2 separate regions of the Homo sapiens genome follow, and region 2 is linked to region 1. Evidence: fine-mapped expression QTL. Tissue or cell type: whole blood. Region 1 holds a variant in brackets; the other region holds the start of a gene. All regions are shown on one strand. Distances are from middle to middle.

Evidence for each region. PIP is the estimated chance that this variant, and not a neighbour inherited with it, causes the effect.
Region 2: IRAG1 starts here. The variant in region 1 is fine-mapped to the expression of IRAG1 in whole blood (TOPMed, PIP 0.99).

What each region holds. Positions count from the first base shown.
Region 1 is chr11:10,603,193-10,611,298 of GRCh38, forward strand. It overlaps IRAG1 (inositol 1,4,5-triphosphate receptor associated 1), which reads right to left. Exons shown (of 21, transcript NM_130385.4): 11 at 6,536-6,659; 12 at 3,550-3,580; 13 at 1,213-1,353; 14 at 1-59. Among named protein-coding and RNA genes, the nearest start is that of LYVE1, 39 kb to the left of the region's middle. RefSeq lists enhancers at 2,930-3,224, 2,950-3,244. The variant A/C (reference allele first, on the strand shown) is at 3,540.
Region 2 is chr11:10,690,080-10,698,185 of GRCh38, forward strand. It overlaps IRAG1 (inositol 1,4,5-triphosphate receptor associated 1), which reads right to left and starts at 3,676. Exons shown (of 21, transcript NM_130385.4): 1 at 3,457-3,676. The coding sequence starts at 3,523.

The DNA.
Region 1 (8,106 bases):
TCCAGCAACTTCTGGTAGGTTTCCCGGTGCTCACAGTGGTGCCAGAGTGAAGCTGAGGACTGAACAGGAGTAGGAGCATCACCTGGGGTCCTCAAATAATGTTATGGACTAAATCAGCAGTCCCCAACCTTTTCGGCCTCAGGGACTGGTTTGGAAGACAATTTTTCCACAAACCTGGTGGGGGCGATGGTTTGGGGATGAAACTCTTCCACCTCTGATCATTAGATTCTTATAAGGAGGGTACAACCTAGATCCTTCGCATGCACAGTTTACAATAGGGTTCGTGACCCTATGGGAATCGAATGCTGCTGCTGATCTGACAGGCGGCGGAGCTCAGGAGGTCATGCTCTCAGGCAGCTCACCTCCTACTGTGCAGCCTGGTTCCTAACAGGCCATGGTTTGGTACCGGTTTGCGGCCTGGCCCAGGGGATGCGGACCACTGGGCTAAATGTCTGTGCCCCCCACAAAGTCATCTGCTGACTTTTGGGGGGACATATCCTAACTCCTCAATGTGATAGTGAAGTGGGGCCTGGGCGAGGTGATTAGGTGAGGAGAGTGGAGCCCCACGAATGGAATTAGTGCTCTTATAAAAGGGACCCCAGAGAGTTCTGTTCTCTTTCCACCATGTAAGATATAATGGAAAGGTGGTAGTCTGCAAGCCAGAGATGGCCCTCACCAGAACCCGACCATGCTGGTGCCCTGATCTTGGCCTTCCAGCCTCCAGAACTATGAGAAATAAATGTTTGCCATTTAAGCCACCCAGTCTAAGGCCCTTTGTTACAGCAATTCAAACTGACTAAGACACACACCAAGCCTAGACTCAGCTCTCATGAAAGCAGCTCTGGGCCCCATCCAGGCTGAGAGAAGTGGCCTCTGCAGGGCCTGGGCCACAGTTTCTTCTGGTGCTTGGAGAAGCCCAATGTGAACACGCTATCCCTGGCGCCTGAAAGTAGGAGTCACACCCAGGCCACCCTGCCCCCTTCTGAGAAGCTCCCAAGGCTTTGGAGGACCTGTCCACAGCCCTGAGGGAACCAGGCCTTTGGGATCTCTGCCTCAGTTCCCCCCAACTCTCTGAGGAACACTGTCAGAGTCTTGGCTCAATTTTTCACTTCAGGAGACTATACTTGGTACCTGAGAGAAGCATGACACCCTGTATGGCCCTTGGGGACAGTCTCTGCTCCAGGGATTCCTCACATCAGGCTCCACAATTACCGTAATGGAAGCTTTGAAGTTTTCCAGTTCTTTCTCAGTGTTCTCCTCTGTCAGGTTGCGTTCCCTTTCAGCCTGGTTAATTCTAGATTCCAGAGTGTAGCTGTCATTTCTAAAGGCCAAGGACAGTTGCACAAACACGTTCTGTTGGGAACAAGGGTGTGAGAGAGGTGCTGGGAGGAGTTACTGCAGAGGACAAGGCTGCAGCTGTGCTCCTTGCACGAGCGTTTTGCAACGGCCCCTGGAACAGCCGCCAAAGCACCAAAGCAGCCATGTGCAAGGGAAACGCTCACTTCACAGGAAACCACAAAAAAGATGGTAAAGCAGGGACCAAGGTCCACGCTAGGCCCTTCCCAGAACCGGAGGTCCAAATGTATTCTACCAAAAAATAAGAAGAGAATAACACTTTGCTTTTTCCTGAATTTTAAGAAAATAACATCCTGTATCTGGGTTTAGATAAACTCAGGCCAGTACAGCTAATTGTGTAAGCATCTGGATTTATGCTGGGATTTATTGCATGAGGGGTTTTGGAGATTTTGCAGGAAAATACTGTATTGAAAGAAACTCCATGTGAGATTTAAGCATTGTTGACGTAAAGCAAACTTCAATCAGCATCTAGCCCGAGTATTCCAAATCCTGTATTGATAGAAGCTTTAAGTAGCTGCCAGGAGATTAAATAAGGCCAGGTATGATTCTGTTCGGTTAAGCTTTCTGGAATAAATAAATGTTTCATGCTAAAATTGCAGCCTGCATGAACAGACTTTGAAAAGATAATATTGGTCATACATGGAATTCCCAGAACAGTAGGAAACTACTAGGGAGAAGAAATAGACAGATGGACCTCACTCAGGAAGGAAGCAATGGTCTTCAATTTTACAGCCATCATCTGCCCTGAGTGGTAGCAGATTTATACCCTGCAGGGTTAGTAACCACAGGGGCTTCTGAAGTTCATGTAACATGGCCCATGGAAGGCAGTCATCTCCAGAAGAATTGAAGGTACAGAATTGACCCAATGATGATGATGAAGGCAATATTGAAAACTACTCCTTATTGAGCATCTACTATATGCCAGCACTGCTTTTCATTCTACAAATTCATGTAATCTCACAATAACCCTCTGGGGTGGGAACTGTTATACCTGTTTATGGGTAAAGAGGCCAAGACCAGAACGGTCATTAACTTGTTCAAGGTGACACGGAGTAACGGAGCCAGGATTTAACCTCAGACTGTCTGATTTGAAAGCCTGTTTTATTTCCACCATGCCGAGAGCTGTGTCCATATACATCTGCGGTCAGCATTTGGACATTAAACAAACCGCCCATGGCCCATCTTCACAAATGTCAGTGGGTAGGCTTAGAGCTCATAGCCCAGTGATAGAAATTTTCTGCCTTACCCGGCCTTGGTCAAGTCTATGAATAATGCTCAATGCTTAATTTTCTATACCTTGATTATCCCCTTAACAGCAGTGTGACACAATGAGTTCTGAATTCAGTGAGAACACTTGGATCTAGGTCTTGGTTTTGCCAACTACAGTATCTAGAAACTTGGTGTGGTTATTTACTCACTCAGTTTTCTCCTTTGTGCTGATTCCTGCTCCACCTGCTTTTCAGAGCTGCTGGTTAGGATCAGCTGAAAGGATGGCTATGCGTGTGTTATAGACTGCAAGTGCAATGCCTGTGTGCAAGTTATAGATACTACCTGTGGTAGATACTTCATACTGTCTGTCTTCCTCTGCTTATCTGGTCCACATCAGCAGTTCTCATTGTCTCACCTCTGATAAGTTCTCTTTGTCCGCTACAGAATGAAATGCAGATTCCCCTCAGCTCACTCACAACCCCGCTGGGACAAGGAGGCCCCAGTGAGGAAACCGGAAGGCTGGATTGCTGACAGCACAGCTTCCCGGCTCCGCTGAGCTGGCATTCTTGTAGCTGAAACCCTGAGGAGGCCAGCCCCCTTTCCCACTAAACTAAAGCTTAGAACTTGAAATCTGACCATTTTTCAGTAATTTTGAAATAAATTTGATTCAATTCTGCAGCCTCCCAGCTGGTTTTGTGTATCTAAGTCGTACATTTAAAGAATATAAACAATCCTTACAGGAATGTAAAATTTCCAACTACCTTCTCCCTTTTGCCCAAATTTGTCAAAATCTTCCATGAACGGACGTGGGAATGGGGATCTCATGGTTCAAGAGGGCTGGTCATGAATGTTCACATTACCCCACAGTCACTCTTTCTCATTTTTGTCTAAAAATGTCAGAGCTAGAGTCTGGAGGAAGAAATGTTTTGAATAAGCCCAGTCAAGCACGGGCACTAAATTTCATAACACACTTG[A/C]GTCACTTACCTCAACTTCCTTTTCAGTGAGTGGAGGGGCACTGTGAAAAAGAAAACACACAATTGAACTGTGTGCAACCTAGTCAATAGACCCAAAGGTGACTCTGAATGACCAGCAGACCATGTGTTTCCAGGGGTGGAGTAAGCTGTGTTGGTGAGAAGGAAAAGATGCAATGTCCCCTTGCCTGTGCTCTGTCACCTGTGAGATACTGACTCTTACGGCACCATGACTATCTCTGTGACTTTGGACAAGTTATTTAATCTCTCTAAGCCCCAGCGTGCTCATCTGCAAAATGGGAATCATATCACCTACCTTGCAGAGGTATTATAAGCACTATATGTACTCATGTATGTATGTGTATGTGTTTGTATGCATAAATATATGGCATCCACACTCAGTGGGCTCTCGGGAAATGTGACCTTGAACTCATAGCCTTGCTGTGAGAAATAAGAAAATGCATGTGATAAGGACTTTATAACTCATACACATCTAAGTTGCCATTATAATTGTTCTGGGGATATCCACCCAGGTCTGCAAAGCCTCACCCTCCTCTGTCTCTGAGGGCTGTGACAAAGGTGCATGCGGGCCAGAGAATAAATGGTAGGAGAGAGTGACCAGGGTTCTTCTCCACAGCAAGAACTTCTGATGGCTAGAATCACAGAGTGGCAAGAAAGCCCCAGCCGACACAGAGGCATCCTTTTGAGCAGCTCCTCGTCTGTGGCGTTCCCACAGCCAGGGCTCTCCAGCTATAGGCAGTCCCTGCATCTGCATGTCCACTCGATGCTGCTGTGGCTGCTGCTCTTGCTGGTAACTAAAGCTGGCCCCATCTGAAGTCCACACAATGTAAATAATGCACAGGCCCTTTCCTGTGCTGGGGCGGGGAGGCCTGGGAGGGGTCCTACCAGCGTCACAGAACTTGGCAACAGAGCATGCCATCAATAAGCTTCTCAGGAAACACAGCTTCCTCTCTTGAACGGGTGTGAAGGGACCCCAAGAGCAAAGGTAGGGGTCAGCCATCTCTGCAGGGGGCTGGTTCTCACCCCTAGGGAATGATATGAGTGCCTTCCTGTCAGGATGAGAAGACCCCATGGCCATGAAGTCAGCGGAGTCCAGAACACGGGACAAACAGCTGCAGGGATGTTTGACACTTACAGTCCTTGTCACAACCCCACCCATCAGGCCCTTGCCTTAACTGTCATCTACAGCATACACATATGATTTAAATGATTTGGCAAAACTTGCCAAGTTTGTTTCTGACTCCTGGGTTTGTTGGGATATTATGTGAAATGCACATATTTTCATAAATTATAAACCAAACATTTTTCTATTTCAATGACTCACATTCTGCTTTTTTGCTGTAGAACACACCCACCTTATTTTTATTTTATTTATTTATTTTTGGGGACAGGGTCTCGCTCTGCTGCCCAGGCTGGAGTGCAGTGGCAGGATCACTGCAGAGGTGGCTTACTACAGCCTTGAACTCCTGGGTTCAAGCAATCCTCCTGCCTCAGCCACCAGAGTAGCTGGGACTATGGGTGCATGCCACTATACCTGGCTAATTTTTTATTTTTATTTTTTGTAGAAACAGAGTTTCACTCTGTTGTCCAGGCTGGTCTTAAACTCTTGGCCTCAAGTGATCCTCTTGCCTTGAGCCTACAAAGTGCTAGGATTACAGGTGTATGAGCCACCACACCCAGTTAGAACATACCCACCTTAAAAAAAAAGTGGGGGTCTGGGGGGAAACTCTGAGGACTCAGAGAAGTATGATTTAGGCAGAGAAGCCACATGGTATGTCTGGTGTCTGATGCAGATAACTGTGCCTTACAAATGGGCATAGGTACCCGGGGGCAGAGCTGTGAGCCTCTAAAAGGACACAGCATCTTTTTTAAGTGACTATTTGTATATCTTCTCTGAAGAAATGTCTATTTAAATCCTTTCCCCATTTTGAAAAATTGGTTATTTATCTTTTTATTGAGTGTAAGCCTTCTTTATATGCTCTAGAAACAAGTTCCTTTTCAGATAAGTGATTTGCAAATATTTCATTCTGTGGGTTGCCTTTCACTTTCTTGACACTGTTTGCAGCACAGAAGTTTTTATTTTGAGGAAGTACTATTTATTTTTAAAATCTTGTCTCTTGTGTTTTTGGTGCCATATCTAAAAAACCCAAAGACATGAAGATTTACTTATATTTTTTCTTTGAAGAGTCTTATAGTGTTCTCTCTGACATTTAGGTCTATGATCCATTATGAGTTAATTTGTGTGTTTTGTGTGAGGTAGGGGTCCAACTTCACTCTTTTGTATGTGGCTATCCAGTTGTCCCAGCACCGTTTGTTAAAATTACAATTTTTTTCCTCTGTAAATCTTACCAAAACCCTTGCATGAGTGGCTTTTTGTCATTTGTTATTTGCACATCTCAAATTATTACTTTATCACAGAGGCCTTTCCTTGACCTCCTACCCAATGCCCCACTCTCATGTCATTCTCTAGATGTGCCCTATTTTATGGTCTTTCTACCAACTTTACTCTTTCAAATCATTCATTTGGTTACTTAAATGTTATTTGTGCTTTGGGAGGCCGAGGTAGAAGGATCACTTGAGGCCAGGAGTTCAAGATTATCTTGGGCAACATAGCAAGACCCTATCTCTACAAAAAAATATTTGAAAACTTAACTAGTCATGGGTAAATGGTGTATCTGGGATTGAAACCCATGTCTCCTGGCTCAAAGCCCATTCTCTGCTGCCATGAGCTTCTGGTGACCCTTATGCCTTCATGAACTGTGCTCACCTAAGAACCCCACCTGGCCTTTGAGTTGAAAACACCCAGCCTGGCCTTTCATTATTCTTTTTGTTTCGAATGCATTATCCCTATCTAGACAATTGGACTTTGGCCCTTCTGGGTTCAAGAATTAAGACTGGTGTTCCTCTGTGTCCCACCTAGAATCCAACACAGGGGCCACTCGGTACAGGGCCTTCTGTAACCCACATCCTGATTTTACCTTCCAGGGAGACTCCTGTGGACCCGCAGTTTGCGCAGCAGCACATCAGAAATATTAGGCATGACATCTAAGCCACTCTTTGACTCTTCTTCCTCAATAGCTGGGGAGAGTTCAGAAGGAAGCCCTGAAAAAAAAGTGCTTACTTATAAAATGTCTCTTTGAAATCACAGTAGTACTGTTGGCAGCTAGCTTCAGGAGCTTTGACATTTATAAGTATCTAGTTCTATGTTAAGGGCTTTTTAATTGTTATCTTACATTATTCTCACAATGAGCTAGAACTTAGTCATCCCATTTCACATGTAGATAAGCCAAGGCTCAGCAAGGTTAAGTCACTTGCTCAAGATTACAGAACTAGCAAATGACATGGCCAGACCTCAAGGTCTACCTGCTTCAAATGTTATGTTCTTCCCTTTGCTTCCCACAGTATTAAGCTGGCAATTGGAAGCTGGTTGGCTCTTTGGCTATAATGTTTGGGAAAAAAACCTGCTCCTTGGCAGGCTTCTCAGGAGACCTGTTGTTCAATTATTCCTCCTCGGATAAATTAAAATGTTCTATATTATGTATCCTACTTAGAAATTAACATCTGATTCCATACCCCATAGATAAGAGATTTTCCAGAGTAAACCTAAGGTTGCTAGATCTTTTACAGATCTCAGAAACATAAATGCCTCCTAGTCAACAGAGACAATGAACAGCTTTTTGTTTTTTAAACTTCTAAAACTATCTTGGGTCTGTGCTTTGAAGACAGAATGAACAAACCAAGTATTCTCTTTTCCATAAATCTTTCTCCTGTTTGAAAACAGCTCCTGTGCCTCTCTAAAGCTTCTCTTCTCCAGACTCTAGCTCCATTTTTCCAACAAGCTCACTGTGCTCCACTGTGGCCCATGGTCTCTAGATACCATCCCATTCCTGCACACATTCTGGTTTGTTGCTGTTACAGAGGCCCAGATGTTCTCTAACAAGATCTTAGCACAGGAAGACTTTGGTAAATGTCCCTGGCATTGATGTTTGTTATTCATGCAGCATAGATTTTGTGTGCCTGACTACGGGCTTACAGTACACTTAGCATTAAGCAAAACTCTCAACCTCTTTAGTTGACCCAAATCAGTTATCCTCATCCTGTATAATGGTTACTTTCCATTTGCATGTAGAACTTCATATTTATCCATGTTTTACTCTTTCTCCTGGATTTTAACCTGGTAGCTTTCCAATCTGCTCAATCATTTTCCAGGATCCTAGGCTAGGCTAGAGACCAGGACTATAGGCATAGTTGTAGCCACCTGAAGAGTTAAGACTGGGAATCATGTGAATAGAAAGAAGTCTCACCAAAGGAGACCATGAAGAGACAAGAGGCTATCTAGTTTGGCTCAAGGTAAAATATGTTTAAATACTTTGAGCTTGCCAGTAAGAGAATGGTAGGCATGGATTCCTTGGTACTCAAGGTAGCCAAGTAAGCTGGAGGATCATCTGTCAGAGATGGGTCAGTCAGCAATTCTTCTTTGGATATGAGATTCAACTAGAAGTTCTCTTAGCTACCTGTTACCTCTCTGGTTCTGTCCTGGTATTTATAG
Region 2 (8,106 bases), 87 kb after region 1:
TCTTCTCCGCTAGGAAAAGTTTTCAGTCTGGCCGGGTGCGATGGCTCACGCCTATAATCCCAGACTTTGGGAGGCTGAGGTGGGCTGATCACTTGAGGTCAGGAGTTCGAGACCAGCCTGGGCAACATGACAAAACTCCATCTTTACTAAAAATGTAAAAATTAGCCAGGCATGGTGGTACTCACCTGTAATCCCAGCTACTTGGGAGGCTGAGGCATGAGAATTGCTTGAACCCGGGAGGTGGGGTTGCACCACTGCACTCCAGCCTGGGTGACAGTGCGAGACCCTGTCTAAAAAAAAAAAAAATGTTTCCTGTCCGACCAACTGTCCTCTGCTTTCCACCTCCCTTGGAGAAAGCCCTTGCAGAGAAGGCAGGGCTTGTCCAGGGTCATGGGCGTGAGTTACCTCTGCTAAGACTCTGAATTTGAAGGCCCATTTGTGAGGCTGCCCTGGACTGTCGCCTGAACTCAGAGTCTAGCCTCCAAGGTCCACAGGACTAACATGATATCCCCTTTCCCTCTATTCGTGATTTTCCTGTGATTTGGACTGTGACACTCAGTAACTGCCCCAGGACCTAAGTTACTAACTAGCGGCAGGGTGACATCTAATGCAGGAAGCGCCCGCTTTGGACCAAGGTGGCTTGAGCTGGAGTCCACCACCTACCAGCTGTATGCCTCTCTCCTCATCTCTAACATGAGGCTTAAATTAAATAACAGATCTAGCACAGATCCTGGCACAAAGTAGAAGCTCAATTAATACCAATTTTCTCCCGTTTCCTTTTACATTCACTACCTGAGAACTCAGCTCTCCATCTCCCTCCTCTGACTCAGCTCCCCAAGGGGCAGGGGCAGGGCCAGAGTCTGGGGGCCCCAAGCTCTCTTCTCCCTATCTACCCAGGCCTCTGCTTCTATTCAGTCAGCAAACAATCCCTCTGCTGACCAATAAGCCCCAGAGAGAGCGGCTGAGGGGCAGTCCAGGCTCTGTGAGGTGACCCAGGAGAGGAGGCAGGGTGAGAGAGGTGGGTAACTTCAGGCCCCCACCTTGTGTTCTTTAGGGTCAAACTAGATGAATCTGATCATCAGGCACATGTACAAAATCAACCCAGGGCCCTGTGTAACCAGAACCCACTTTATAAGCATTGTGTCCATTTATTCACAGAAACATGATTGAACCTGAGCACTTCGTGTGCTCCCGGCATTCTGGGTGCTAGACACACAACGGGTGAGGAACGGGATAAGGTCTCCGCCCTTGCAGGGCTCAGTCTGCTCCTCCAGGAGGTGTGGGGTGCTTCTGTCCACCTCTGTTACAAAGACTTAGAGGAGAAAGGCAGGGCTTTTTAGAAAGCTGAGGACCCATCACGTATAGTTCAGCCCATCAGTCAAGGAACCTAGCTTCCTCACACAGACCCACAGAACTCCTCATCCCCAAACCATGAGCCTCCTCAGCCTCCCAGGGATTCAGTTTCAAGTAGGTTTCACATGGCCCTAACTTCCTCACCCAAGATACTATTTAAATTCCCTGCTTTGTCACTTGGTGGCTGGGTGAGCTTGGACGAGTCATTTAACATCCCCTAGCCCCACTGTCCTCACCTGGAGCAGTAAGGTAAAGATACATCCCCCATGGCATTCTGTGAGGGGGCATGTGAAATCCCTCGTGGAAAGCCTCAGATGCACCATGTTGCAAGGGGGCCGGTGATTCCCCCGCTGCACTCTGACATGGGGTCCCAAGCAGACGGGAGCTGACCATGGAGGTCAAGAGCAGAGCCTCCAGAGACCATGGCCTGGGGCTGAGCATCAGCTGTGCAGTCTCTCTGTGCTAAAGTGTCCTCCTCTACAAGACCAGGGTGGAAAGAATGACCCCTGCTTTGTAGAGCTGTGGGAGTCATGAGTTACTGTATGGGAAGGGGAACAGTGTTCAATACATAGTAAGAACCATGTGTTTGCTGTTTATTTTCTTTCAGAAATATATTTATGGGGATAACCAATCATGTAGTAGCAGCTAGCACATGGTTATCCCTCCAAGATGATAAAGGATACAGGAATGCCTCCCTTACCTCCAAGCATAAAGATAGGTGCATCCGCTGTGAATATAAACAGCCACCCACCAAATATGCATGCACACACACACACATACACGCACTATGGAATCATGGACAGTACAAACATGATAATGACAACTGTTTTGTCCATTAGGTCAAAAATCGCAAGACACAATTGGAGGCAGCATCATACCCTGGCATTCACGTCTGTGTTGAGAGGCATGGGCACTGGAGTTAGAGTCATACAAACTCATACAGGGTTTGAGTCCTAGCTCCGCTCCATCTTGGTGGAACGACCTTAGGCAAGTCACTTAACCTGAGTTCCCTCCCCCATAGAACTGTTGGGGTAGGGGAGTGCAGGGGGATGGGCAACTCCACCTGCCTCACTAGCATGTCATCGTCCCTCGGTGGGGGCAATACAATCCTTGGCAGGTCCTGACTCCTTTGGACCCCCAGCCTCACAGTCCCAGGAAGCTTCCTCCTTTTCCCTGCAAAAGACTCTGCTCAGACCAGATTTACTTCCCTGTGCCACCCCAGTGAGCAGCCTGAAGAGTGTTCAGCAGCTGCCGAGCTCTGGGAGGCTGGAGTGCTGGCCAGGGGTCCCAGACCCCGGGCTGCTGTTTACTCAAACTGCAGAGCCTCTATAGCCTTTACAACTGTTTCCTGGGCAGGAGGGAGCAAGACAGCTGGGCCTCTCTCTGGCCTCTGGCTTCCACTGGCTTTTCCTTTGGAAAAAGCCAGTTCAAATGGTGCTCACTCTAGGAATCGCTTCAACTCGGAGCCCTGGAGGTGAGCAGGGCCGGGCACGGGCCGGGCACATACACCCCCTCTAGGGAGCAGGGAAGGGCACAGGCCAGGGGAAGCTGGAGACAAAAGAGGAGACAGGGACAGAGATAAAAACAGGGACTGTGACAAGAACACAGGATGGGAAGGGCAGAGACAGAAATAGAGGCAGGCTTAAGGATCTAGACAGGTCATGCCAGCCCAGGTTCAAGGCAGAGGGGCGTAGGGGGACAGAGAGAGAGACACAGGAAGCACAGAGGGGAGAAAGCTCTGCTTAGCAGACTTGCCAAAGCTGAAGACCCCACTGTTGCCACAAAGGGGCCCACAGGAAAGCTAGGGGTTGCAATCGCCTGTCAGGACCCACATTTTCACCCTGAGCTGTGCACACTTTCCAACGGCAAGCAAAAGGAGCACAATCTAGTTAAGTTAGGACTGGCAAGATTCACTTCTGATTTAAAACTTAAGACAGCAACAATAAAGATACTCAGCTGAAATGCCACCCAACAAAGCCAGCTCCCCTGGAAAGTTAAAGTTTAGCACCCCCATCCCAGCACCCTGTACCTTTAAGGAAGAGAAGGTTCCCTCCGCTTCCCAGCCGAAGAGGCAGGTTATTCTAGGATATAGGGGAGGCTTACCTAAAACTGAGTTATTCTCCTTTCCTCCTCTGGCCAGCCTCTCTTCACTCTGGGGAGCTTTTACCATTTAAGGTCAATGTTACATCTGGCTCCGGAGCTCAGAGCCGAGAAGCCTCTGGCTGCAGAACCTCGGCCGCACGCCTCCTCTGAGAGGGGCTGGGACTTAGAGCCGAGAGCTCCTCTGGGAGCCCCACTCCGGCCTGGCTCGGGGGATAATGGCAGGGAAAGCCGACCAGCTGGCCTCAGGGCTCAGGGCAGGCTGGGCCTTTGGGGCAGTCGCTCACCCTGGGCCCCTCCGATGGGTATCCACACAGCAGATGGCAGTCCCCATGGCAACTCGTGCCACTGGACACTGTCCTGGCCGGACGGGAACAAAGGGACCCTGCAGATCTCCCCACCCGCCTGGAGCCTCCAGCAAGCATGTGAGCCTGGAGAAGACCCTGGGCCAGCGCCAAGAGAAACTGGGAATGGTTCCTGTCCTGGGGATTCGGGGGCAGGGGCTGCTCCCACTGCGTTAAACTCTTGGGATTGCCAGAGAGAATGGCCTGGGAGATTCAGCTACTCCCAGACTTGGCACCAGCCCCAGGGATGTCAACCTTGCTCCTCCATTAAACAGCCTGTGGTCTTAACATCGTGGAGCCTCAGTCTCCTCATCTCTAAAGTGGAAATAATAATGATAATGCCCGACTCACTAGGTAGTCAGGGGATTAAATGAGATGTTAGTCAAGTGTTTAACACACTGCCAGCATCTCATAAGAGCTAGATCAGTATGAATGAGCTTCCTGCCCCTGCCCAGGAAATCCATACCCTGTCCATACACACTCTTCACCTGCCTTGGGTATAGGGCCTACCCAAGGCCAGGATCATGGAGCTCCAAGCTGGGGGCAAGCCACATGGGGACTTCAGCCCCTTCTGTGGTTAGAGCAGCACAGAGAAACCCTAGGTAAAGTTGCTAGATAAATTACAGGACACCCATTTAAATTTGGATTTCAGATAAACACAGGACATACTTGTATTAAAGACTGTTATTTATCTGAAATTCAAATTTAATTAGTCATCCTCTATTTTTGTTTGATAAATCCGGGAACCCTAGCTTTTGGCCATCATTAGCCACCCAGAAAACATTCAGTAGTCATGGTAGAGAGCACTAGGGATTGGAGCTCCCAGGCCTATGGCCTCAAGCTCTCCTGGCAAACACAGTCCTTATGCTCAGCTCCTGGCCACAGATCAGTTGTGCAGCAGTGGCAGATGCTCTCCACTGAGCCTGGCCCACTGAGCCTCCATCCCAGCACCTTCCTCAGGCATGTGGTTCTCAGGAAGTCCTGTCTCTTCTGTGTGGTTGTTGTAAGAGAGATCACTAACAGGGGTGCAGCGCATGAAGTCCGCTACCCTCATCAATAATTGTTTTTTGTAAATGAAACCAGAGGAGGCTGTCTTGGGTACTAGCCATGCTTTCTCTCAAGTGTCCACACCTGTCCACATGGAGGTACAGGCTCCCCCCACAACCCCCGTCCCCCACAAAGCCACATGGTGGTAACTACTAGAATTGCAAGTATATGGTCTAGAAGGAACTGACCAAACTCTTCAGTGCTGTTTCTCCAACTTCAATGTGCATTAGAACCCCCAAGTGTGAAGCTCCTTGGGTTCCTCTTTCAGAAATTCTAATTCTATGGATCTGACATAGACCCAGAAATCTGCATTTTAGTGAAGGCCCTTGGGTGATTCTCATGTACTTGGTCCAAGGATCCCACATTAGGGAATGTCGCTTCAAAGGTTGATCTTGTGAGTCCAGCAGCAGGCACTACAGGGACAATCAAAATCAGAAGTTGAAATGGAACTTAGGGCTGGCTGTGTGTGTGTGTGTGTGTGTGTGTGTGTGTGTGTGAGAGAGAGAGAGAGAGAGTTCAAAATCATATATCATATTGAGTACCTACTATATTCCTAGCATTAGATTAGATGATTTACATAAAAGCACTCTATCCTCACAAGTGTCTACGCCTTTCCTTCAAAAGGAAACTGAGGCTGGAAGAAGTAAAACAACTTGCTTGATGTTCCACAGCCAGTAAATAAGTGACAGCACTGAGATGTGAATTCAGGTGGTCTGTCCCTAAAGCTCTGTCCTCTTTATCATGCTGCCTCCGTTTCAGCCAGGGTTTCTGAACCCAGGGTTCACGGATAACCTTCAGGGGTCTCTGAGCCAACTGAAATTGCATGTAAGCCACTACGTGGTTTATGTTTCTCTTGGGTAAAGACCCACAGCTTTCACCACACAAAGGCATCACCAAATAACTTTTTAATCATTGCATTAGCAATACCATTTTATAAAACACATGACTTGTCAGTGTGTAAAAATGGAACAAGTTCTATAGAGGACAACTTAGCACTATCAAGATTATACCCTTTGACCCGATTCCACTTCTAGGAATTTATTCTATAAACACACTCCCACACTTGGGAAACGACAAACGAACAAGATTATTCATTGCAGCATTATTTACAAAAGCAAAAGGATTGGAAACAACATAAATGTCTAGCAACTGGGGCCATAACAGAAGATGGAGTGCAGCCACAACAAAGGGTGAGGAAGCTCTTGGTGTACTGATCTGAAAAGATTCCAAGATACATTAAGTAGAAAAACTAAAATAACAGTGTCTATCAAATGCTACTATTTGAGTGAAAAAGAGTGTGTGTGTGTGTGTGTACATATTGTAATATGTACATATATACACGCAAATACATATATATACTTGCATTCATGTATACACACAAGTTCATATGTGAGTATGCATATCATCTCTAAAATTAGCACAAGAAATGAATAACATTTAGATTAGTGGCCAATGGGGAATAAAACTAAGTGGCTGGGGTAAAGACTGACCATGGTTACACCTTATTGATACATTTAAAGTTTTGAATCATATGAGCAAAACATGTGTTTACATTAATAAATAATAACAAAACAAAAGCATTGCTGTAAACAGGGATTTACTCAATTCATCTTCCAGCACTGCTTCCCCCAAGTGTCAAAGGGTATTGTCATGATCCTGACTAAAGGTTATTATTTTTTTTTACTTCTTACTTTGGAATAATTATAGATACACAGGAAGTTACTAAAATAGTACAAAGACTCCTACATACCGTTTACCCAGCTTCCCCAACGGAGACATCTTACATCGGTGTTGTACAGTATATTTCAAAGCCAGGAAATTGGCACTGGGATGCTACTGTTAACTAGACTACACATCTTATCCTAAAGGTTATTTTTAAAAGCATAAATTTCTCACAGCTCACTCATCCATTTAAAAATGCTCATTGGGCACCTTTAGTGTGCCAGACATCATGTGGGACAATGGGATGTGGCAGGAACACTTCAGACCCATCCCTCCCTTGTGTCAGGTAGACCAGTGAAGGCGATCCCTTTACTCCACTGGGAATAGCGTCATGGAGGCCTGGGATCCAGCAACGCACAAGGAGTGCTGACCACAGTTCTAAAAAAGGAACTGTGTCCCTTGCTATCATGGAGCTTCACAGCTTGCCCAAAAGCTGACTTTTAATCCTTAAAAGAGCATGAGCAATTACTCTGGCTATATTTATCCTTGTTCCTGGAGCCACACAGGGATTTGGCCTCGCTCTCCCAAAATCTTCAGCTTCTCACTCATTCCCATCAGAGACAGTCATGTGTCCTCCGCCTAAAAGCAGGGGCCCAGCAGAGGCAGACTGGCACATAGCTCGGGGAGGCTCTCCCAACAGGCCATTTAATCCAAGGCCAGGGAAGAAGTTTTAGAGTCTCAGGCAAAAGACATATCCTTGCACCAAGGGGAGCCAAGCAAGGAAAAACAGCTTCTTGCCAAGAATGCTGCCAGCTCTGCGATCACTTGCTCGGTTGACTTCACTGGGTGTTTTGACTTCCCTACCCCTTTTAGACTTAGGAACTCTGTGATATGCTCAGCACTCAGCCCTGGATGAGTGAGTGAGCAAATAAGAGACCACATCTCTAGGAACTGCACCCAGGCAACAATGACAGGTATCATTTACTGAACATGGTGTCAGGCACTGTCACCCACTTTACATACTGAACATGGTGCCCAGCACTGTCAGCCACTTTACATATACGGTAGAGTTCATCCTCACCAAATCCATGTGGTGTGGAGCTTCTCACCCTCACATCCTAGATGGGGAAACAGATGCAGGGCAGTCAAGATGCCTGCCGATGTCTTGCAGGGCATAAACCCAGATCTCTCTGACTTTAGAATTCCCGGGTGTCAGGTTTGAGACTACAAACTGGGAACACAGGTGTCGCTCCCTGTCCCACAACCCCATTAAAATGATAGCAAAGAACTCCTTAAAAAGGAATAAATTCTTAGCCACAGAGGAATGGAGGGAGAGGGCAGGCATGAGTGGACATATTTCTGGAAGCTGGGAAGGGCATAGAAGAGAGGTGCCTAATGAGGCAGGGAGAAGGAAGCTTCGGCCTAGCCCTAGACGACATCTAGAGAGGGAGGTCACCAGCTTTGAAACCCCTGAGAGGCTCTGGACTTGAAAAGCCAGGTGTGACAAGGACAGGAATGAGTTATGGAGCCAAACAGAGAGGGGATGAATTAAAGTTTATGGGCAGAAGGGACAGAAAGGGAATTAAATCAAGAAGCTTTT